5 separate regions of the Homo sapiens genome follow, and regions 2, 3, 4 and 5 are each linked to region 1. The links come from fine-mapping of genetic effects on gene expression. A gene starts in region 1. Each other region holds a variant in brackets. All regions are shown on one strand. Distances are between the middles of the regions.

Region 1 (4,953 bases):
TTCTCAAAGCTAGGCCCACTAACCTCCACTACCTGCTCTCTCCGGGGACACACCAGAGTTGAACACTAAGGACGGAGAGATGCATTCTTATCTGTGGACAGACAGGCTGTGATTTGAAAGTACTATAAGGTACACCTGGCTGACTGGAGTCTGGGTGGGCAGTTGAGGTTGTATTTCACATGAACTCATAACCCACATGGCTCCCTATGCAGCTTAAACCATGAAACATGGAGCACGTGCATGTTCCAACCATTTCCTACAGTGGCCTAGCTTTCACCCAATTCACTGTGCCTGCTGTCCAATCTATAATTCAGCTAACAGGGCCTTTGGGCTTAAGGCTGCTAAAGACAGGTTACCACTGAGCATTAGAGCTCTGGGAAAAACAAGCTCCTCTACTGAGATGTTGAATGTAACACCACCGCAGTATCTGTAGAATGAACTTCCCAAGACTTCAGATTTCTTATTTATACAGACTTCTGTGACTACAGCCTCCACTGCAACTTCAGTCTACAAAACATGGCTAACGAAGTGCTTTCGAGCTTGGGAGTTAAATTGCTCCTGAGAGTATGTCAGGAGCAAAGCTGAAAATGGTGATAACTTGGGGACAAAATATATATGTAATATTGGGATCACAATTTATTAGGAATTAATAAGCACTTGTATATCATATCCTTCTTGCCTAGCATTTATATAGGCTTAAAAAAATGGTAGCTAGTGTGATAATAATCCTTGCAGATCTCCTAGAGAACAGGCATGATCACCTTCAGCTAGCACTGTTGGTTGCTCACCTGTCATCTATTGGGAGAAAGCATTCTCCCTGTTTACAAGTAAGGAAACCAAAACAAGGAGGTTAGAGAACTTACCTAAGATTGCCTACTACATGCAGAGTAAAGTAAGGATCCAGATGGAGGCAGTTCAACTCTGGAATTTGGGCTATTAATCACTGTACCCTTCCATCTCTTCTGTTTATGTGAGGAGACTGAAATCTACAGACATAGAACTTCTCTGCTGTCATGCTGTTACCTGGATTGTACACAGAAGTCCAAATTACAGCTACATCCCCGTTTAAACAGTAAGCCGTTTCTAAATCTGAATCCTGAGGACTTTCGAGCAGCCAGAAGGGTTTTCAGACATTATGACATGCAGCAAGAAAGTACACAGAGAGAATTTTTTTAGATGAAAAGCCCCATCCAACAGTGGCTGATAACATTTTCTGTTCTCTGATAACCCCCTTGCTACTAGAGCAGCTGAAGATGACTCCAAATGCATGAATCTGTTCATCTGTTCACATGCTAAAAGAAAAAGGCCTGGCAGTTCATGATTAAAGAGGCACGAAAGTCCCCAGATCACAAATGCCCTTTCAAAAATTTTCCACATTTGTTCTAGTTTCAAGCCATGATAAAGAGTTTCCAATCAAATGCATCAGCTAAAATGAATCCATTTTCTGAAACAGAAGTGGCTAGTTTGGGTCCAGCACTTATAACGAAAGGTTCCTGGTGTCACAGACCATGAAATAAGACTGTTTGAAGTTGTTCCCATGGAGAATCCCAGAGGACTTTAAAACTTCTGAGCAGGAAGATCCTTGACCCTTGCCCAACTCCTTTCCACTTAACAGCGATGCAACTGAGCTGAAGAGACTTGTCCAAAGCCACTGAGCAGGTTAGTTAGTGGCAGGGCTAAAATCTGTAATGAGGGGTTGGTCATGCGCAGGTTGCAAACAGCCTTGTCCAAGGATTCACACTTGGAGTAGATACATTGCACCCTCACTTTTGACTAGGCCTAACTTCTGGTACAAACCTGTGGAGTCAAAATCTGATTTTAAATATTGTAAAAAACAAAAACAAACAACCTCTCATTTTTCAGATCTCTCAATGAAAACTTTAGGGCCAAATCAAGAAATCATAAGGCTATCATAGGCCCTTACATAAAAATGGCCTTAAAATATACACACAACCTCCTTTTCATAGAAGACAGAGAGCCAGAGAGATAGAAATACAGAAAGAGAGGGAGAAAGAATACTTTGCCCCTGACATATACACACAAAAGTACTTGGCTTACTGTAAGCAAAAAGCAAAAAAAAAAAAAAAAAAAAACAAAACAAAAACCCTCAAACTCCTTTGTCTTAAGGGCAGAGAGAAAGGTGACAAAATTTGAAATAAAGTGAGCCACTGAAGACAGGAATGGGCAAACTCCAGCTAGCCTGGAACTATCCCGGTTTCCTCTGTGAACCAGCCTAGGGGCTTCCCCTCGGTCCGCCCCTGCACGGAAGGACGTGCGTGACACTGGGCTGCGTCATTGGCAGAACTGCCCGCGCCCAGAAAACGAGCTGGAGTGGAGAACAGAATGCAATTGCAGACAATCTTCCTCTGGTTCCCTGGGGAGGCCTGCTCTGGGCAGAGAGATCCCAGGGGACTGTGCGGGAAGGAGCTAAAGCAATAGCCCAAAAGCGCCAGGGAATGCACTTGAAGTTTCAGACGTTTTTCTTTTCTTTGAAACTAAGTTTCCAGCCCACCAGGAAAAACTGCCTCGCGACCTAGTGATTTTAATCTCACGCTTGGCCGCAAGCCGCTGCCTCGAGACTGGAAACCGGCCGCGAGGCGCTCTATCCCCCTGACCCCCTCCCCCCGCGCTCACCTGCGATATCCCAGAGCTGCAGGCGCACCACAGTCTCCGGGTCCCAGTGGAGCACCTTGAGCGCGAAGTCCACGCCGATTGTGGCCCGGTAGTGCGAAGAGAAGTTCTGGTGCACGTAGCGCTTGATGATACTGGTCTTCCCCACGCCCAGGTCGCCAATCACCAGCAACTTGTACAGGTGCTCCTTGTGCGGGGCCTGCATCCTGGCGGCCGGCCAGACGTGCCGTGCCTGACCAGGGAAGCGCAGCCTGGGCTCTGCGCACGAGAGAGACTTGGGGAGCGCAAGTGTAGGTGCAGAGAGAGGCGTGGGCGGCGGGGCGGGGGCTGGGGGGCGGAACTCCTCCCCTAGGGGTTAATCCTCCTTCCTACTCCGCGGTCTTGGAGAGGGGAGGAGACAGGAGCGAGTCCCGGGACTGGCAGCTGAAAGGGGTTCGCGTGTGGTTGCCTGTTGCAGCGCTTATTTATCCGGCGCTTTAGAGTTTCCGAAGAGCTGTTTTCACCTGTGACCCTGGCCACAAACTTGTGAGGTGTGGATCTTATTTTCCACGTTTTGCTTGCGAGAAAACTGATTGTGAAAAAGTACTCTGCGGGAGATGGCCGGTGAAAGGCCCCGTTGACCACAGGTCTGAAGTCACAGGCTCTTAACTACCCCACACTGTAGAGAGAAATTACAGTATTAGGAAGCCCAAGACTGGCTGGGCTTGGTTCCTGCGTGCCCTGGTTTTTAAGTTGAGGGACCATAAGTAAGTCATTTGAGCTCTCACAGCCTGTTATTTCTCAATGAATGGCAATGCTGACCTCTGAGCAGCTTGGAGGTGGGAACACTGAGCACTTTCACACCCATTCAACTGGTAATCAGTTAACAAGGAGGACAACTGGGCCGAAAATGCCAAGGGCACTGGTGACTTTTAGCCTCTTCCCATATCCTAAAAACTCAGAGCTGCACAGAAAGACAGTTTTAACAATCGGTCAGATTATTACAAATAATAATAATGGCAAACATTTATTGAGCACTCGCTATATGCCAGAGGGTTTATAAATTATGTCATTTAGTCATCCCAGCTGTCTTAATAATAGATACCATTTTTCTTCCTATTTTACAAATGAGGAAGCTAAGGACCAGACATTTTAAGTAATGGACCCAGAGTCAAATAGTAAGGAAAAAAACCAAATTCAAACATAGGTCTTTAGGTTCCCAACTTCTTTTTGTTGTTTTTGTTGTTTGTTTTCATTCATTTGACCAATATACATTTTATTACCAATTAATATATGACAAATTGTACTTATTTTGTCTTGTCTGTCTCCACCTACAAGAAGGTAAATTTTTTTGAGGCCAGTAGGCATTGTCTGCGTTAGGATTTCTGTATCATCCTCCTAACGCAGACAATGCCTACTGGCCTAAGAAAAATTTACCTTCTTGTGGGTGGAGACAGGACAAGACAAAATAAATACAATTTGTCATATATTAATTGGTAATAAAATAAGGCAGAAAGGGGATGTGAAGAGATTATATGGGGTTTGCCTTTTAGATAGGGTGGCCAGGGAAGGTTTCAGTAAGATGGAGACAATTTAGTAAAGACATAAAGAAAATGAGAAATTGGGCATTCAGGGCTAGGGGGTGAGCAGTTTATACCAAAATGAGCTATTTTGTACCTGAATGTGCTGTGAAGGAGCTCTGCTCACATTCTATCATTTCATCTTCTCAATTGCTTTATGAAGTGGGTTATTTTCTTCAATTTATAAATAAGGAAACCAAGATTAACAGCAGCTTTCTCAAGGGCACACATAACTAGTATGTGTTAGAACTAGGACTTAAACACAGGCCTGTGTGAAAGGGAGAAAGGAGGTTTGGCAAGGCCATTGTCTTTCTGCCTTCCTCTTCTGGCCTGACACTCCCTAAACTTTAGCCTCCACATGCCCCAAACAAGCAGAGGGATGCTGAAGATGTGTACCCGGGACAAGTCACATAACCTCTGAGCCTTGGTTTCCACATCAACGAAAGGAGAATGATAATACCTATGGCAGGGCATGGTTGCTCATGATTGTAATCCAAGCACTTTGGGAGGCTGAGGTGGGTGAATCACTTGAGGTCAGGAGTTCAAGACCAGCCTGGCCAACATGGTGAAACCCGTCTCTACTAAAAATACAAAAATTAGCCGGGCGTGGTGGCAGGTGACTATAATCCCAGCTACTTGAGAGGCTGAGACAGGAGACTATCTTGAACCAGGGATGCAGAGGTTGCAGTGAGCCAAGATCACACCATTGCTCTCCAGCCTGGGTAACCTGAGCAAGACTCTATCTCTAAATAAATAAATAAAT
Region 2 (4,953 bases), 23 kb after region 1:
TAGGTTGTCAATGTGAGATCTTTTTAACTTTTTGATCCTGGTGGTTGTGATATAAACTTTCCCCTTAATGCTGCTTTGGCTGTGTCCCAGAGATCCTGGTATGTTGTATCTTTGTCCTCATTAGTTTCAAAGAATTTCTTGGTTTCTGCCTTAATATTATTGTTTACCCAAAAGTCATTCAAGAGCAGGTTAATTTCTATGTAATTGTATGGTTTTGAGCCATCTTCTTAGTACTGATTTCTATTTTTATTGCACTGTGGTCTGAGAGTGTGATTAATATGATTTTGAGGTATTTTTTCTATTTGCTGAGAATTGCTTTATGGCTGATTGTGTGGTCAATATTACAGTATGTGCCATGTGCTGATGAGAAGAATATATATTCTATTGCTTTTGGGTGGAGAGGTTTGTTAGGTCCATTTAGTCAAATATTGAGGTCAGGTCCTGAACATCTTTGTTTTCTGCCTCAATGAACTGTCTAATACTGTCAGTGGGCTGTTGAAGTCTACCACTATTATTTTGTGGTTATGTCTCTTCATAGGTATCTAACAACTTGTTTTATGAATCTGGGTGCTCCTGTATTGGGTGCATGCATTTAGAAAAATTAGGTTTTCTTGTTGAATTGAACCTTATACCATTAGGTAATGCCTTTCTTTGTCTTTTTTAATGATTGTTGGTTTGTGTTCTGTTTTGTCTGAAATGGAAGAGCAACACCTGCTTTTTTCTGCTTTCCATTTGCTTGGTAGATTTTTCCTCCATCCCATTAATTTGAGGCTATGGGTATCATTGCATGTGAGATGGGTCTCTTGAAGACAGCAAACAGTTGGGTTTTACATATTTATCCAGCTTTCCACTATGTGTCTTACAATTGGGGCATTTAGCCCATTTACATTCAAAGTTAGTATTGATATGTACAGATTTGATCCTGTTGTTGTGTTGTTAGTTGATTATTATGCAGACTTGATTATGTAGTTGCTTTATAGCATCAAAGATCTATGTACTTAAGTATACTTTTGTGGTGACTAGTAATGGTCTTTCCTTTCCATGTTTAGCAGGCCCTTAAGGATCTCTTGTAAGGCAGGTCAGGTGGCAACAAATTTTCTTAGCATTTGCTTATCTGTAAAGGTTCTTATTTCTGCTTTGCTTATGTTTTTTGTTTGAAAATTTTTTTCCTTAAAAATTCTTAGTATAGGCTTCCAATCTCTTCTAGACTGTAGGGTGTTTGCTGAGGGGTCCATTGTTAGCCTGAGGGGATTCCCTTTGTAGGTGACCTACCTCTTCTCACTAGCTGCCTTTAATTTTTTTTTGCATTTTGATTTTGGAGAATCTGACCACTATTTGTCTTGGGGATGTTCATCTGGTATAGTACCTTGTAGGGGTTCTCTGCATTTCCTGAATTTGAATGATGGCCTCTCTAGTGAGGATTGGGGAAATTTTTATGGTCGATATCCTCTAATATGATTTTTCTGTTGCTTGCTCTCTCTCTCTTTCTCTTCCAGGGACATCAGTGAGTCATAGATGTGTCCCCTTTACATAATCCCATATCTCTCAGAGGTTTTGATCATTATTTTTTATTCTTTTTTCTTTGTATTTGTCAGTATGAGTTAATTTGGAGGACTGGTCTTTGAGATCTGAGAGTCTTTCCTCAGCTTGGTCTATTCTGCTGTTTATACTTGAATTATGAAATTCTTGAAGTCAGTTTTTCAAATCTGCTGGATCAATTTGATTCTTTGTTAAAATGGCCATTTCATGATCCAGCTTCTATATCATTTTATTACATTCCTTAGATTCCTTGGATTAGGTTTTGACTTCCCCCTGAATCTCAATGATCTTTGTTCCTACCCATATTTTGAATTCCTTGTCTGTCATTTCAGACATTTCAGCCTGTTTAAGAAACATTGCTGGGGACTAGTACAGTCATTTGGAGGTAAAAAGACATGATGGCTTTTTGAGTTGCCAAAGTTCTTGAACTGGTTCCTTCTCATCTGTGTGGGCTAATGTTCCTTCAGTTATTGAAGTTGCTGACCCTTGGATGAGGTTGTTTGCTTTTGTCTTCTTAGATGACCTTGGAGATTGAATTGCAGTATAAGATTGGTTCAGTTGACTAGCTTCATTTCTGGAAGATTTTAGGGAGCCAAGTCTCGGCTTGGCATTCCTGAGCTATGTGCTCTAACTCTGGGTGGTAGTACTGGGATGATAGTTTTGTTCTCTGGCCCCTTGATGTTAGGAAACTGCTGCGCTACAGAAACTGAGGTATTTTGGCCTGCTGGCCATAACACGCTGATGTATGGTGCTGGCCAAAGCACTTCATCAG[C/A]GTGGTGGCAGCATGATCTATGCTTTATCTTGTGTGCCAATAGCCATGGCAATGCAGCAGGGTACACATACAGGGCACTGTCAGGAGCAGGGTAGCAATGTTCCTGCATATCCTCACGCTGTTGGTGATGGCAGTGGGGGTAGGGTGTTTGTGGGGAGGGTTTTGCTGGCTAGACTAAATTTTTAAGGCACTAAAATGAATACTGCATTTCAAGATGAATAAAAGCAAATTGAGTCAAGAAAAACCCATTTATTTCCAGTTTATCTGCTATAGTTCTTACTAAAATGAAATAAATCAAACCAGTAGTATTTCAAATCAAGAATGGTCAATTAGATAAATAAACAAGTTTACTGACTTTACTGAATTCTCATGTTCTTCTGCATCTTGTTTAAAATATTTTCTCCTACCATCTTTTTAGTGTTCAACCCTTTGTGCTTATTAGTTTGAATGTCTAAATATTCTTCATGAGTTATACCTGTAAGATATATCTGGAAAGTGGCAATGGACATATTCAAAATTGTGCATTGATGTGCTACTTTTAGAATCAGAAGATACTATCCGTGTAGTAGTTTAGGAAGAGAAGAAAGTACGTATCTCATAAAATGTATTTTTATTTATATTCCTGATTATATTATTCAAAGTGATTAAATTGTTCAATCAATAGTGTATTCAAAAGGCATATAATCTAGGGCATTTGTGCTAAGGAGTACTGTTGAGATTTTAATGCAATTTTGGAGGATGGGAATTTAGTCAATTAGCATGTTTACCTGAAAAAAGAAAATTAGGATGTTGGAAAAGAAAGAAGAAAAACAGAAAAGAGGAAAGGAAGAAGAGAAGGCACAAGAAAGGAGAGGGAAGGTGAGACAGAAGGAAGAAAGAAAGGAAACAGGAAAGGAAGGAATATTCATTATACTCCTACTTTGTGTCAAGCATTTTTACTAGCATTTAACTATCAGCCTGATCCTGAAATATAAGTATTAGCTCCATTTTACAAATGAAATTGAAGATCAGAAAAGGATTGCTTAATTTCATAATTAACATCACCTGTAAGAAATTGAACTGAGGTTTAAACTCAGTAGTATCTGGCTTCAAAGCCTGTGCTTTTCCCATGATATCATACAATAATTCTACACATTGCCTAAAGGTTCTATGAGCTTTTCCCTGTGATTTATTGAAGTAACTTAATCTAGCTTTTTCCTAGTTCATTTCAGATTGCCTGCTACATGGTAGACTTCTAATAAACATTTGTTAACTAAAGGAATGAATGAATGAATGATTCCCAAAAACAGAAGAAAGAAATGGTAAAATGTGCTTCCTTTTGTTCTTAGAAAGGAAATAAAATAAGGAAGACATCAGAAGGTGGGAACTATATTTTGCTCTATTTTGACCCAGGACTGGTTTGAATTTAGTTCAATGGTTAGTGCTTAGAACATTTTGAATTTAGTTGAAGGTCTGAGTTCAGACTTGTTATCATCAAGAAGTGTGATTTAGGCTCAGATGATCTCTAACATGGAAAGAACAAACAAAACAAGAGTCAAGTTTAAACCAGGGACTAATTTGTGGAAATTCTTCTGCTCTAGGAAAGTTCAAAGTGTGGCAGTACATACTGAGGCCTTAGTGGATTATCACAGACCACATTCCTACTACAAGATTTACTCTCAAATAAACATGGATTCCAAGGTCTCTTTCAGACTTGGAGTTAGACTTCCCAAACATTTGTCTCATGTATTTTGAAGCCTCATCTCTTGGACCAAGCTGAATCTCTCAGGATGCAGACCTGATATTTTATCAGGTACTCATTGGCAACTGAACCATCAAACATTCATACTGTGCATCATACAAATAGATAACAGGGAGGCAGCAGGTGGTGTTTGGTTTGTTAGTTGATATTAATGGGAAATTTATTTGGCAATTGCATTAATCATAAGATTTGGCATAGCAAGTAGCAGAGTTCCAACTAAAATCACCTTCAACAATAAAAGGAATGTTAGCAAATATTCAGTCTAGCAATATGGTGAAACATGATCCAGTAGCTCAAAGAAGTCAAGAAAGATCCAGTTTTTTCTGTCTTCCTATTCTATCTTCCATAGTATTGGCTTCTGTGTATAAAATGCATAGCTATACACTAAAATTTTTAGCTCTTTCTCCTGATGACACCACTGGATTGTATGTATTTCCTAGCCTTCCTTATAGGTAAATTTGTGCATGTCTCTAAAGTCTGGCCAGGAGACAGTGGGCAAAATTTTGTTTACTTCCACGTCTAGCCTATGTGTGTTTCTTGATGCTATCTCCTTCCGCAAACTGATGAAGAAAGGCACCACAATCCTAGAAACTGTACGTGGCAAGCCCAGGTTCAAGCCAGTTGCAGGAAAGCCACTGCCAATGATGAATACCTATTTAAACTTTATGTAAAAGGGAAATAAATTGTTATGCTGTTTGAGCCATTACATTACTTTACTGACTTACATTAAAATATTGATACCAGAAGTGGAATGATGCCTCAAGAACAACCTAAACTTTATAGGACTGGTTTAGTTATAGTTGGATTAATAATAGAATATGCTGAAAAAAATAGTGATCTATGTTATACAATAGAAAAATAATTTAATAAAGCAAATGCTTCAGTAATGTAGAAGGTAGAC
Region 3 (4,953 bases), 150 kb after region 1:
CCCTATAAGATAGTTAAGGCACAGCATATTCCCTTTTTCACATCTGCCTGCTTAAACTGACTTGAGCATCTTATCTGAATTAATCAGGCTAACACTCATAAAATGAACAAGTAGTTTAAAATATACTTGCAAAGAAACAAGGATTTGCAAATACTAATGATGCAAACATAAGAAAATGGCAGTTTTTTTATAATTACCCTATTCTGACTTCTGTCAAACATGTTGACAGAAGTTTTTAAAAACAGATGTTTTGAAATGGTTCCATCACTATAATATTTTTTTTAGTCCTAGACATCAATAAAGCAAATGTTTCAGTTAAAATTTGTCTATTAAAATTGTCATCCCTAATACCAATTGATAATTATTCTAAATCCTTCTAAAGCTGTGACACTTTCATACTTTTAACAAAAATGTGTCAAAATCTACTGAAATTCTTTAAGATTTTAAAACACATCAGAAAATTTTGTTTCCAAATGTTGAAAATTTACAGTCATGAAAATTATCAGTAACAGGGACTCTAACATTACTTTTGGCAACAAAATCATAATAATGAAGAATATTTTACATTATTTTCAAATGATATCTTCTTAAAATATATTTTGGGTAGGGCACAATTTTATGACATTAATAAAGTATTTAATCGCTTAATATTTCACATTTTATAACAAATGTAGTACAGTGATACATGTATATATAATTTTCAAAATGTACCTATAGATAATTTAGAATACATAATAAAAAATTTAGACATCCAAGTCTAATCCATCAAGATGATTTGTAATTTTGAAAAGAGTACTTTGCATGGAGTTGAATGATTTGATGATTAACCAAATATGGAAATATTATATTCCAGCAACATTAAAAAACAAAAAATGTTTCCATTTTTGCCCTTTGTTTACTGTAGAAATCTATATACGTACAATTACCTCCATTTGCTGTCAGAAAGGAACCAGGCAAATTTTACTGAATTGGTATTTTGCCAAATCCATCAGAGTGTCACATCTTTCCTCAGAAAGAAACCAACTTCCCTATGTCAGTTCCAAGGAATAGCTATAGTTTTCTGCCTATTAACTGGACTGAACCATGCATTTAAAAAGTCGAATTGTAATAAAATGCAAAACTGCCAGGAAATAGTTACAGTGGTTACAGCCAAGCAACTTCCAGCATTTTACTGAAGGAACTGGAAGTTTACATGTGAAAATGGAGGGTCATAAATCTGTTTATTTCCAGTGCTGAAAGGACATTACATTAAAACCAAAATACACACTCCAGAATTAGCTAAGAAAACAGCAATTTACTGCACAGCAAAGTAGTCAAAGTCCCTGGGCTCATTCCTCACTTACTTACTCATAAACTCAAACCGTAAAGTTGGAAAAAAATCTTAAGAGTTCATCTAATCCACTCCTCAGCTCATGTTCCTCACTATACTCAACAGAGGTGAGGCACACCATGCAGCATTTCAAAGCTTCGGTCCTCCAGGCTTTGGGGAACCCCTGCAGTCAGAACACTCAGGATTTCCCTTGATAGCTAATTTTGTTTTTAGTAGTTTTGAAAGTTAGAACATCACTGTTTTTAACTCTGAGCCCTATCTTGGCCTCTATAGGCTTACACAAGATTAAAACATAAATAAATAAATAGAATAAAATATAAAAGTCTAATCTCTTTTCCACTAAATCATCCAACATATATGGCCTGAGGGCCCACCATAGCCTCTAAGGACACAAAGGTAACACTTCAAAGAACACATCAATAAAACAATACCACATGATATATTACATAACATTCTTTATTTTACAAGTATTTATTGAAGGCTTATTATTGGTCATATATCGTGTAATACATAGGGAATCAAATGGTTAGTAAGATGGAGTTGATCCTTGCCCTAATGAAGTTTAAAGACCAGAGAGGAATACAAACAGGCAATTATGACACAGAATACTAAGCCTTATTATATTCAGGGATCTTCTGACACATGTATCTGCAATTTTGTACTCACTGAATCTTCTCTTCCATAATAAAAGCATGTTGATGCAAAATTACTCAGATAAAAGAACTCATTAGTAATTTTTAAAATTCCATATTAAATATATATACATATATATTTTAAATTTTTTAAGTTCCAGGGTACATGTGTA[G/C]GATGTGCAGGTTTCTTACATAGATAAACATGTGCCATGGTGGTTTCCTGCACCTATCAACTCATCACCTAGGTATTAACCCATTTATGCCAGAGGTTGCAATTTGTTGAATGTGAAAAATCAGACCTTGGCAATGACCTTGAGCAGGATATAAAGAACTTCCACATGCTTAGCATTCCAGAAATGGAACACTAGGCATAAATGGGTTAAGCCCAGAATGCATTAGCTATTTTTTCTAATGCTCTCCCTCAGCTTGACCCCCCACCCCCTGACTGGCCCCAGTGTGTGTTATTCCCCTCCCTGTGCCCATGTGTTCTATTGTTCAGCTCCCACTTATAAGTGAGAACATGTGGTGGTTGGTTTTCTGTTCCTGCATTAGTTTGCTGAGGATAACAGCTTCCAACTCCATCCATGTCCCTGAAAAGGACAGGATCTCATTCCTTTTTATTGCTGCATAGTATTCCATGGTGTTTATGTTCCACATTCTCTTTTTCCAGTCTATCACTGATGAGCATTTGGGTTGATTCCATGTCTTTGCTATTGTGAATAGTGCTGTAATAAACATACATGTGCATGTATCTTTGTAATAGAATGATTTCTATTCCTTTGGGTCTATATGCAGTAATGATATTTCTGGTTCTAAATCCTTGAGGAATCACCACACTGTCTTCCACAGTGGTTGAATTAGTTGACATTCCCACCAACAGTGTAAAAGCGTTCTTATTTCTCTACAACCTCACTAGCATGTTGTTTGACTTTTTAATAATCACCATTGTGACATGAGATGGTATCTCATTGTGATTTTGATATGCACGTCTCTAATGGTCAGTGATGTTGAGCTTTTCTTCATGTTTATTGGCCACATGAATATCTTCTGGGAAGTGTCTGTTCATGTTCTTTGCCAACTTTTTAATGGGGCTCCTTTTTTCTTGTAAATTTGTTAAGTTCCTTGTAGATTCTGGATGTTAGACCTTTGTCATATGGATAGATTGAAAAAATTTTCTCCCATTCTGTTGGTTGCCTGTTCACTCTGACAGTAGTTTCTTTTGCTGTGCAGAGCTCTTTAGTTTAATTAGATCTCATTTGCCAATTTTTGCTTTTGTTGTAATTGCTTTTGGTGTCTTTCTCATAAAATCTTTGCCCATTCCTATGTCCAGAATGATATTGCCTATATTCTATTCCAGGGTTTTATAATTTTGGGTTTTACATTTAAGTCTTTAATCCATCGTAAGTTGATTTTCGTATATGGATTAAGAAACAGGAACAGTTTCAATTTTCTGCATATGGCTAGCCAGATATACAGTAGGATTAATTGAATAGAGAGTCCTTTCCCTATTGCTTCTTTTTGTCAGCTTTGTCAAAAATAAGAGAAGAATCAAACAGACACAATAAAAAATGATAAACAGGATACCACCACTGATCTCACAGAAGTACAAACAACCAACAGCAAATACTACAAACACCTCTATGCAAAGAAACTAGAAAATCTAGAAGAAATGGATAAATTCCTGGATGCATACACACTCCCAAGACTGAATCAGGAAGAAGTTGGATCCCTGAATAGATCAATAACAAGTTATGAAAGTGAGGCAGTAATAAATAGCCTACTAATGAAAAAAAGTCCAGGACCAGATGGATTTACAGTTGAATTCTACCAGAGGTACAAAGAGGAGCTGATACCCTTTCTTCTGAAACTATTCCAAACAATTGAAAAGGAGGGACTCCTCCCTAACTCATTTTATGAGGCCAGCATCATCCTGATACCAAAACCTGGCAGAGATACGACAACAAAAAGAAAACTTCAGTCCAATATCCCTGATGAACTTCGACGCAAAAAATCTCAATGAAATACTGATAAACCAAATCCAGCAGCACATCCAAAAGCTTATCTACCACAGTCAAGTTGGCTTCATCCCCAGGATGCAAGGCCGGTTCAACATATGCAAATCAATAAACGTCATTCATCACATAAACAGAACTAAAGACAAAAACCACATGATTATCTCAATAGACACAGAAAAGGCCTTCGATACAATTCAACATCGCTTCATGTTAAAAACTCTCAATAAACTAGGTATTGAAGGAACGTATCTCAAATAATAAGAGCTTTTTATGAGAAACCCACAGATAATATCATACTGAATGGGCAAAAGCTGGAAGCATTCCCCGTGAAAACTGGCACAAGACAAGGATGCCCTCTCTCACCATTCTTATTCAATATAGTATTGGGAGTTCTGGCCAGGGCAATCAGGCAAGAGAAAGAAATAAAGCGTACTCAAATAGGAAGAGAGGAAGTCAAATTGTCTTTGTTTGAAGATAACATGATCCTATATCTAGAAAACCCCATCATCTCAGCCCAAAAGCTTCTTAAGCTGATAAGCAACTTCGGTAAAGTCTCAGGATACAAAATCAATGTGCAGAAGTCACCAGGATCCCTATACACCAACAAAAGGCAAGCAGAGAGCAAAATCATGAATGAACTCCCATTCCCAATAGCTACAGAGAGAATAAAATATCTAGGAATACAGAAGAAGTGAAGGATCTCTTCAAGGAGAACTACAAACCACTACTCAAGGAAATGAGAGAGGACACAAACGAAGGGAAAAACGTTACATGCTCATGGATAGGAAGAATCAATATCATGAAAATGGCCATACTGCCCAAAGCAATTCACAGATTCAATGCTATTCCCATTAAACTACCATTAACATTCTTCACACAATTAGAAGAAACTATTTTAAAATTCATATAGAACCAAAAAAAAGCTCGTATAGCCAAGACAATCCTAAGCAAAAAGAACAAACCTGGAGGCATCATG
Region 4 (4,953 bases), 91 kb after region 1:
CATCAGCCAGACAGCACCAGACAGACTGGCTGGAGACCCCAGTTTGGAGGTCCCGCCCAGTGAGGAGGAACGGGATTGGGGACCTGCTTTTAAAAGCACTCTGACCAGGTTTTTGTAGAGCAGCTACGCTCTGCTGGGTGACTGCTTCCACCTCCAGTTGGCTTGTACTTTCCAAAGCCCAAAGACTGGAAATAACTAAGTTGCCCAAACAGCAAAGATGGCGGCCTGGCTCTACCTCTGGGAGATCCATTTCAGGGAGATTTTAAATCTCTGTCAGCTACTGGGGGTGGCTGGAGATTCCAACTGGAAGGTCCTGACACATGAGAAACAATGGGATAGGTGAACCACTTAAAAAAGCATTCTACTCAAGCCTTTAATCCCAGCACTTTGGGAGGCCGAAGTGGGTGGATCACGAGGTCAGGAGATGGAGACCATCCTGGCTAACACAGTGAAACCCCGTCTCTGCTAAAAATAGAAAAAAATTAGCCAGGCGTGGTGGCAGGTGCCTTAAGTCCCAGCTACTCCGGAGGCTGAGGCAGGAGAATGGCGTGAACCCGTGAGGCAGAGCTTGCAGTGAGCCAAGATGGTGCCACTGCACTCCAGTCTGGGTGACAGAGCCAGAGTCCGTCTCAAAAAAATAAATAAATACATAAATAAAAGCATTCTAGCCCCTTTTTGTAGAGCAGCTGTGCTGTGCTGGGGGATTGCTTCCACCCACAGTTGGCTTGGATTCTCCAAAGCCCAAAGGCTGGAATGGCTAAATTGACAAAACGGCAAAGATAGCAGCTAGCCCCTCTCCCTGGGAGCTCCATATCAGGGAGGTTCGACGCTACTACTGGTGGCTGACAGAAATTCTAAGCCAGTGAGTCTTACCCTGTGAGGTGCCATGGAGTGGAGCCTGCAGACTATTTTGGCTCAGCCCCTTGAATTCAGCGCCTCTCCAAGGGATAGGTAAGGGGGTATAACCTCCTGTTTTGCCAGAGTTGCAGCTACTTTTGCTGGAAAGCCTGGAAAGCCCAGGTATCTAAGGCTCCCGGATATTTGTGTGTTCCTGAGCAGCTTCTCTGCTGACATTCCACGTAGCTCTATGTGACAGACAGAAGATCCTGGCTGAGTGAGTTCACAAGTGGATTTCCTGACCCAAGGGTTGTAATGATCCATAAGGGAAGCATAAATTCCCAGGATCGCACATTCACTCACCACTTCCCTGGGTGCAGGAGGTTCCCTTGGCTCTGTGTCGTTCCTGGATGGGCCATTATCCTGCCTTGCTTTTCTTCACTCTCCATGGACCAAACTGTTTCCTCATTTGGTCTCAAGGTATGTACCTGTATGTTTCAGGTGAACATGCTATGTTTACTCACCCCTTCCATTCCTCTCCATGAGCACCACACACACTAGCTGCTTCTAGTCAGCCATGTTGGCCACCCCTGAGATTACATTTCAACATGAGATTTGGGTGGGGACAAATTTCCAAATTATATCAATAAAATTTAAAAATGTGCTGTAACAGTACTGCTTCTGTGTTTAACTTTAGTTCTGTATTTAAATAATTTCAGTGCTAACATTTTTACTCTAACATGACAGTTTATCTATCAAAAAGTTACAACTAACTTAATAGTTAATAATGAAAGACTGGATGCTTTTCACCAAAATAAGGAAGAAGAGCAAGAATCTTGGGTCTTATCAGTTCTACACAATGTTGTACAGGAGCTTCTAGGCAGGGCACTGTGCAAGAAAAAGAAATAAGAGGCATCAAAACTGGAAAACAAGAAGTAAAACTGTCTTCTGTGCAACATGTACAAAACCTATGAAATCTACAAAAAAAGCTACTAGAAAAAGTGATTTTACCAAGGTTGCAGGATTCAAGGTAAGTATATAAATTATATTCTCATCTACTAGCTATAAATGATTGGAAACTGAAATTTAAAAGATCACATACAATTGTATAAAATAACATTAAATACTTCATAATAAATCTGACAAAACTGGGCAAAATATGTACAATAAAAGTTACAAAATATTGCAGAGAGAAATTAAAGAACATCTAGATAAGTGAAGAGATAAACCATGTTAATGACTAAAATGTGTCTATGTGCAAAATTGTAATTTTTTCAAACAAATAGATAAATTTAATGCCTTTCCAATCCAAATCCCAGAAGAATTTTCTGTATATATTATCTCATTGTTTCTAAAGTGTAAATTCATGTTACAAGAACCAAAACAATTTTTTAAAAGAACAAAGTTGGATAATCAGGGTGATGAGGTGAAGGAAGATGGCCAAA[T/C]AGAACCCTCTAGCGTTCATCCTCCCTGCAGGAACACCACATTGAACAACTATCCATAAAAGAAATCACCATCATAAGAACCAAAAATCAGATAAGCAATCACAGTACCTAGTTTTAACATCATATCAAGGAAAGAGGCACTGAAGAAGGTGGGAAAGGCAATCTTGAATTGCTGACACCACTCCTCCTTCATACACTGGCAGCAGCTGTGTGGCATGAAGAGAGAATCTGTGTGCTCAGAGTAGGGAGAGCAGAATGATTGTGGGACTTAGCACTGGAACTCAGTGTTGCCCTGTTGCAGCAGAAAGAAACATTCAGCCAGCATCCATAGAGAGAGCATTTAGACCAGCATTAGCCAGAGTGGAATTATCCAACACAGCAGTGGAAACCTGAGTTTCAGCAAGACCTACACCAAAAGCCAAAGTGCTCTGGGGTTCTAAGTAAACTTGAAAGGCAAGCTAGACCACAAGGGCTTCAAATCCTGGACAAATCTTTTTGCTATGCTGTACTCAGAGTGAGTGAACTTGGTGTGTATGTAACCTAGCAAGACACCAGTTAGAGCAGCCAAGGGAGTACTTGCATTTCCTCTACCCCAACCACAGACAGAACAGCTCACAGCTCTGGGAGACTCCTTCCTTACCCTTGAGAGGAGAGGAGAGGAGAGAGTGAAGAGGACTTTGTCTTGTAAATTGGATACCAACTCAGCCAGAGTAGAATAAGGCATGAGGTAGAGTTATGAGGCTCCCATTTCAGACCCTAGCTCCCAGACAGTATTTCTAGACATACCCTTGGTCAAAAGGGCACCTGCTTCCATGAAGAGAAGGACCCAGTCCTTCTGGGACCTTCCATGAAGAGAAGGACCCAGGCAGAATTCATTAACTGCTAATGAAAAGAGCCTTTTGTCCTTGAATAAACATCAATATTAGCCAGATATACTCACTGCAGGCCTTGGATGAGACCTGGGGCTGTGCTGACTTTAGGTGTGACCCAGTACATTCCCAGCTGTGGTGGCCATGAGGAGAGAATCCTTTCCTTCTGCTTGAGGAAAGGAGAGGAAAGAGTAAAGGGGACTTTGTTCTTAAGCTTGGATACCACCTCAGCTACAGTCGGGTAGAGTATCAAGTGGCTTCCTGGGGTCACCAATTCCAGGACTTGGCTCCTGGACAGTGTTTCTGGACCCATTCTGGGCCAAAAGAAAGACAACTGTTCTGTAGAGAGGGACTTAGGCCTGGAAGCATTCACAATCTGATGGAAGAGGCCTTGGGTCTTGAGTCAACACTGGCAGTACCCAGGCAGCACCTGCTGCAGGCCTGGGGCAGTGGTGGCCATGGGGAGAAACTCTTTCTGCATGAGGAAGTGAAAGAAAAGAGTGGAAGGACTTTGTCTTGTGGCTTGGCTGTCAGCTTAGCCACAGCACAATAGAGCACCAACTATATTCCTAAGATTCTTGAATCCAGGCCCTGGTGGACAGGGGGATCTCACTATGCTAAGGGAAATGCCACAAGTCTCGCTGGATTTGCCACCAGTTGATTGAAGAGCGCTTGGGCCTTGAGTGAACATTGGCAGTGGCCAGGAAGTTAAGACACCCAGCGCTGTGCTGGCTTTGGGTCTTACCTAGTGCAATTCCAGTGGTGGTGGACACAGGGGTGCTTGTGTCACCCCTCCTCAAGCTCCAGGTAGCTCAGTACAGAGACTCTTTGTTTGGGGGAAACTAAGGGAAAAGAACAAGAGTCTCTGCCTGGTAGTCTAGGGAATTCCTCTGGATTTTACCCAAGATCCAAGTTAATATGTCTATGAACACACAGGAGTCACAGTATTATTGGGCTTCAGGTACTCCCTAATACTACAGCCTTATCTTCAGGTACAGATACAGCTGCAATGACCAAAGATGTAGATCATAACATTCAACTATCTTTGAGTACTTGTAAAGCCTTCCCAATAAGGTTGGGTACAAAGAAGCCCAGACTGAAAAGACTACAATAAGTACCTATCTCTGGCCACGTGCGGTGGCTCATGCCTGTAATCCCAGCTACTCAGGAGGCTAGGGCAAGAGAATTGCTTGAACCCGGGAGGCAGAGGCTGCAGTGAGCCAAGATTGCACCACTGCGCTCCAGCCTGGGCAACAGAGCGAGACTCCATCTCAAAAAAATAAAGAAAAAAAAAATCCAGTAAAATATGGCCTCACTAAATGAACTAAATAAGACACCAGTGACTATTCCCAGAGTAACAGAGACATGTGACGTTTCAGACAGAGAATTCAAAATGGCTGTTTTGAGGAAGATCAACAAAGTTCAAGATAACACAGAGAAGGAATTCAGAATCCTATCAGATAAATTTAGCAAAGAGATTGAAATAATTTTTAAAAATCAAGGAGAAATTCTGGAGCTAAAAAATGCAACTGACATACTAAAGAATGCATCAGTCTTTTAAGAACAGAATTAATCAAGCAGAAGAAAGATTCAGTGAGCTTGAAGACAGGCTATTTGAAAATACACAGAGGAGAAAAAAGAAAAATAATAAAAAAGAATGAAGCACACTATAAGTTCTAGAAAGTAGACTGAAAAGGGCAAACCTATGAGTTATTAGCCTTAAAGAGGAGGGAGAAGGAGAGATCAGGGTAGAAAGTTTATTCCAAGGAATAACAGAGAAATTCCCAAGCCTAGAGAAAGAT
Region 5 (4,440 bases), 120 kb after region 1:
AGCCAGAGTTCCCATCTGATTTTTTTTTCTAGAGCTCCATTTGTTAAAAGACTCCGAGTATGTGTTCTATTAGCATCAATATAAAAAGTTCTAGATACTGACACCAACTGCTTTTTGTACAGCTTAACAGTCTAATCGCATGGTTTGTGGAACCCTAATGTTCCATTTAGTCACTGTATTTGATGAAATCTGCAACATGGATGATATAAATGATCTTTCTGTCATACAGAAACAGGAAAAGCAGACTTCGACAGTAGATAAATCCAAGTTGAAATGTAGTCTATCTTAAGTTCTTATTCTGGGCAATCCCTCATAATCTCTGAAAACTTAGGGCCTCTTCAAATCATTGCTTGTCCTCAAGCAAACATGTTGTATAATCTGACTTCCATGCCAGTTAGGTTCACACCAGTATTTAGCCATTTAATATTTCCTAAAGTATTTAATGAATGACACCAGCAATGAATTTACTTAAGAGCCAGTCAGGGCCCTCATGAAATAGTGCAAAATCACAGGCACTCTACATCATGATGAGTTGTTCTCATGTGTCAGCCGACTGCTGTCCAACTGGAAAACTAGAGAATAAATTCATGCTTACATGTTAAATAGAATTGTGTTTGTTAAACTGACAGATAGTATCTTCATGAATTTTAGTGAAAAAAAACTTATGCTTGATTTCAAAGGTCTGTTTATATGTTCACATAGCAGTGAGGCTGGGCACAAAATAGGATGGAAATTACATTCAATCAGTAACAATAAAAAGAAAATGTATCTCATCTCCTTGGAGGCCTTCCAATGATTCCGACCCTGGCTATGCCTTCCAGTGCTGTTTCTGTGCCACCATGTGGTGAAAAGATCAAAGGTATGTGGCAGCATGCCAGGAGGTCCAGGAAGCCAAACTTTAAATGGTGCATACTCCTGGAGCCCTACTGCAGTTCAAGGAGGGTAAAAACATCATTATAGTGAATTTTAATGCAGAAAATACGTGGGTTTTGCACAAAACTCTGAAACTCAGAATGTTAAGGTGAAATTTCCAAGCATGCAGCTAGTATCCCTGGTGATTGCAGATACTCTGGTGGGAAATGCTGAGATTCAGTGCTCGAAGGTGCTCAAAGAGAACTCGGTTTCGAAGATCTAAGTTTTAAGCATGACTCCATCACTTGCCAGCTGTGTGACCTTGGACACATCTCTTGCCCTCTAAGTTGAGTCTCTATCTGTGCAAAGAGTTTAAATTACATGATCTTTATGGTCCTTTCCAGCTTGAAAAGGCTGTGGTCCGTGTTTATGTTTCAGAGCTCTGACTGCCTTATTCTCCTGTTACATAATTTCTAAGAGAAGGCATATGTTACTTAGCATAGAGGTTTCATATCCACTGTGAAATATCTCTGGGAGATTCCAAAAATCTATTTAAATCTAAGCTGCTAGTATTTCACTCATTAAGCTATTATTGCTCACCTACTGAAGACTAAGCAATACTCCCAAATACAAGATACACACCATAGAAAATAAATTCACCAATATCCAGATTTTGTCAAAACTCTTATTTCTTTTCTCTGAGGTCTCAGACTCATCAAACATCCAAGGATAATTTTAGGATTCACTAGGCATTATCTGAGTATATCTCCCTGTCATAAAGGTTCATAGTTTTGTTTTTAATTGAAATATCTTCAAATGCTTTTCCTTCTTAAATAAATGCTTACATAGGTAACATAAGTGAATCTTACTGAGTCAGTGATAAAAATTCCCTGAAGTAAACATAAACTCCATAATGCAGTTATTTTTAAAACTTTATTTTAAAAATATGAGCATCTATTTTAAAAGTTTTGATAATTATTGCCATTATTTTCTTGTGATTGGTACAATTTAAAAATAAGTCTATGTTTTCACATTGATTTTAAAAAATATAGCATGTTTGAATTACAAATGATTAAGCAAACTCTATTACTTCATAGCTGACCATCTTCCAGAAAATTCCCACTTAATTGAATACTTAGAAAAAAATGGCCAGTGGCCGATTGAAAGGTATATTAAAATTAAGGGCAGTTTTAATTCTGAAGACAAATATCTTCATGGAAATCTATTTGTAAGCTTCTGAGATTGCTGCTGAAAGTCTACAGTCTGTGAATATACCAATTCCCCTTTACAACTGATGCAGATCATTATGAAATACTGGAAGGCATACCCTACAATTTAGGAATTGGTGTGGCTGCCACTGCTATGCTCTCAATTGCACACTCATCAGTTCCTCTGCGGATCCGGAAGTAGCCATTCTCACCCCAGCCGGTGCCCCAGCTGTTTTTAACAATCCAGTAATCCATCCCAGAGGCTGAGTCAGTGCCATAGCCCACAAGCAGAACAGCATGATTAGTCAGCTCAAAGGGGTTGAAAGGGTCTCTTAGACCAGTGTGGTGGTAGATCCCCTTTTTGTA[G/A]TGGAGGAAGTCATCATATACTTCAAAAGCAACTGCCATGGGCCCATGATGGACCAACTCAAGCTTCATCAGGGCTTCATTGCAGCCTCCATAGAAACCTCCTACATAGTGGTACTCAGAGGAGTAATAACGAAAGCAGTCTTCCTTCATTTTGCATGGAGAATCAGTGCCTGTGTAGGGGAAGCAAGCTTCTTCCACCAGCCCAAAATCTTGGGCGTACTTTCCTGCAATAAGGTATGGGAAGCCGCCTTCACAGCCTGAAGATGAATAACACACATGGTTACCCCTTAGTAGAAAAAGGATTATCCCATTTTCTATTTTTTCTTCTTTGCTCCATTATTCTTTGCATGTTACCCCTGAAAGTTGTTCTTAGCTTAAGCATCACTTCATTCATCCATCCATTTTCCAACTAGCTAACTATCCTTTCATCCTCCTTCTACTTAACAGATATCTACTTAGCACCTAATATGGATGTAGCTATGGCAAAGTGGTTAAGTGGGGAGGCTCTGAAGCCTATATAGGTTTAAAGCCAAAGCCGTGTGAAGAGTTTAACTTCTCTGTATCTCTGCTTACTTACCTGTAAAATCTAGATGGTAGTAGTACTTTCCTCATAGGGTTAAATTAGTTACTTCATGTAAAAATAGCAAAAGTTAGGTATTATGGTCATTGCTAAGCAGCCAGACCCCACAACTTGGCTCTTTCTCAAGCAAGTCTTTTCCCTGACAACCTCTTGCCGAAATGTCTTTCCTACCTTCCTCATGCAGTCCTGGCCCTATTATATATATTATAACTCTGTACTTTTTCTTCACTGTTCTTCACTCTGTTGTTATAATTATTTAATCTCTATCTCTTACTTAACTGTAAGCTTCATGAGGATAAAGATTGTCTTGATATATTATAGCCCCTATAGCCTACAAGTCACAACTAGTAGTACATATTTTAGAAAGAATGAAAGGCTCACTGGCAAATAATCACTCATCAGCAGTTTCACTAGTGAGCTGGGAAATTCCTAGTGGCCAAATCTGGGCTTGAAAGCATAAACTTTAAAATGGTAACGTTTCTCCCTCAATCAATTATAGCTGTGTTTTCGACATACATCACATACAGCCTGATCTGAAAGCCTAAGTACAGATTTTTTTTTTTTCATAACAGGGCCTCACTCCGTTTGCCCAGGCTGGAGTGCAGTGGCATGATATCGGCTCACTGCAGCCTTGACCTCCTGGGCTCAGGTGATTCTTACACCTCCGCCTCCTGAATAGCTGGGACTACAAGCACACACCACCACGCCCAGCTAATTTTTTGTATTTTTAATAGAGAAGGGGTTTCGCCGTGTTGCCCAGGCTGGTCTCAAACTCTAGGACTCAAGAGATTCACCCATCTCAGCCTCCCAAAGTGATAGGGTTATAGGCATAAGCCACTGTGCCCAGCCCTAAGTACAGAATTTTAAAATTCTCCCAGAGAGAAACCAGTGTTAGTATAGTTTTAATAAAAGTTGGGTTTTGGAGACGATGATTAGAAGTGAAACTCCAATGCTAAAAGCTGTGAGACCTTCAAATTATTAGAAAAATTTCTTAGTTCCTGTTCCCCGCCCATAAATAGGGATTATACTTACTACTTCTCAGAGTTTTGAGCATTGTTAGGCAATATATGTAACAAGCAGAGCTCACTCAATATATAGTAACTATTGACATTTTGCTGGATGGTACAGTAAATTCCATGAGCAATCATCCATTAATAAGTGATAGGGCCAGACTTGCACTCAGATTTTCTGACTATAGACACTGCGCTCTCTCTACTGCATCATCCTTTTGCCTTTGCCAACAACAGCCAGCTGCACACAGGTAAATAGCTCATAAATGGTGTCTGAAATGCAACACTTACCTTGAGCATACTGGCTACAAGACACAACCTCCTGAGGGCTTAGGATTGGGGTCTGAGAATTGTTGGTTAGTATACGGATTCTCGCTTCTAGCATACCCATAGAAGCAAATGAGTAGCAGCTGCCACAGGATGC

Alleles and levels. Positions count from the first base shown, and alleles are read on the strand shown. Sizes are in standard deviations (SD) of each study's normalised expression. Not every link is listed here.
With allele A in place of C in region 2, the expression in unexposed skin of the gene that starts at base 2,895 in region 1 is higher (small effect, 0.26 SD a copy in GTEx).

The links. PIP is the estimated chance that this variant, and not a neighbour inherited with it, causes the effect.
Region 2: its variant is fine-mapped to the expression of RAB38 in unexposed skin (GTEx, PIP above 0.99).
Region 3: its variant is fine-mapped to the expression of RAB38 in whole blood (INTERVAL, PIP 0.91).
Region 4: its variant is fine-mapped to the expression of RAB38 in subcutaneous fat (GTEx, PIP 0.95).
Region 5: its variant is fine-mapped to the expression of RAB38 in whole blood (TOPMed, PIP above 0.99).

The regions. Positions count from the first base shown.
Region 1 is chr11:88,172,549-88,177,501 of GRCh38, forward strand. RAB38 (RAB38, member RAS oncogene family) reads right to left here and starts at 2,895. Exons shown (of 3, transcript NM_022337.3): 1 at 2,635-2,895. The coding sequence starts at 2,836. MIR3166 (microRNA 3166) reads left to right here and starts at 3,954; the gene lies at 3,954-4,045.
Region 2 is chr11:88,195,780-88,200,732 of GRCh38, forward strand. No RefSeq gene overlaps it. Among named protein-coding and RNA genes, the nearest start is that of MIR3166, 22 kb to the left of the region's middle. The variant C/A (reference allele first, on the strand shown) is at 2,312.
Region 3 is chr11:88,319,043-88,323,995 of GRCh38, forward strand. All of the region lies in intron 2 of CTSC (cathepsin C), which reads right to left. Among named protein-coding and RNA genes, the nearest start is that of CTSC, 16 kb to the right of the region's middle. The variant G/C (reference allele first, on the strand shown) is at 2,136.
Region 4 is chr11:88,263,502-88,268,454 of GRCh38, forward strand. No RefSeq gene overlaps it. Among named protein-coding and RNA genes, the nearest start is that of CTSC, 72 kb to the right of the region's middle. RefSeq lists an enhancer at 3,452-3,521. The variant T/C (reference allele first, on the strand shown) is at 2,283.
Region 5 is chr11:88,291,826-88,296,265 of GRCh38, forward strand. It overlaps CTSC (cathepsin C), which reads right to left. Exons shown (of 7, transcript NM_001814.6): 6 at 4,308-4,439; 7 at 1,767-2,683. The coding sequence ends at 2,181. Among named protein-coding and RNA genes, the nearest start is that of CTSC, 44 kb to the right of the region's middle. The variant G/A (reference allele first, on the strand shown) is at 2,427.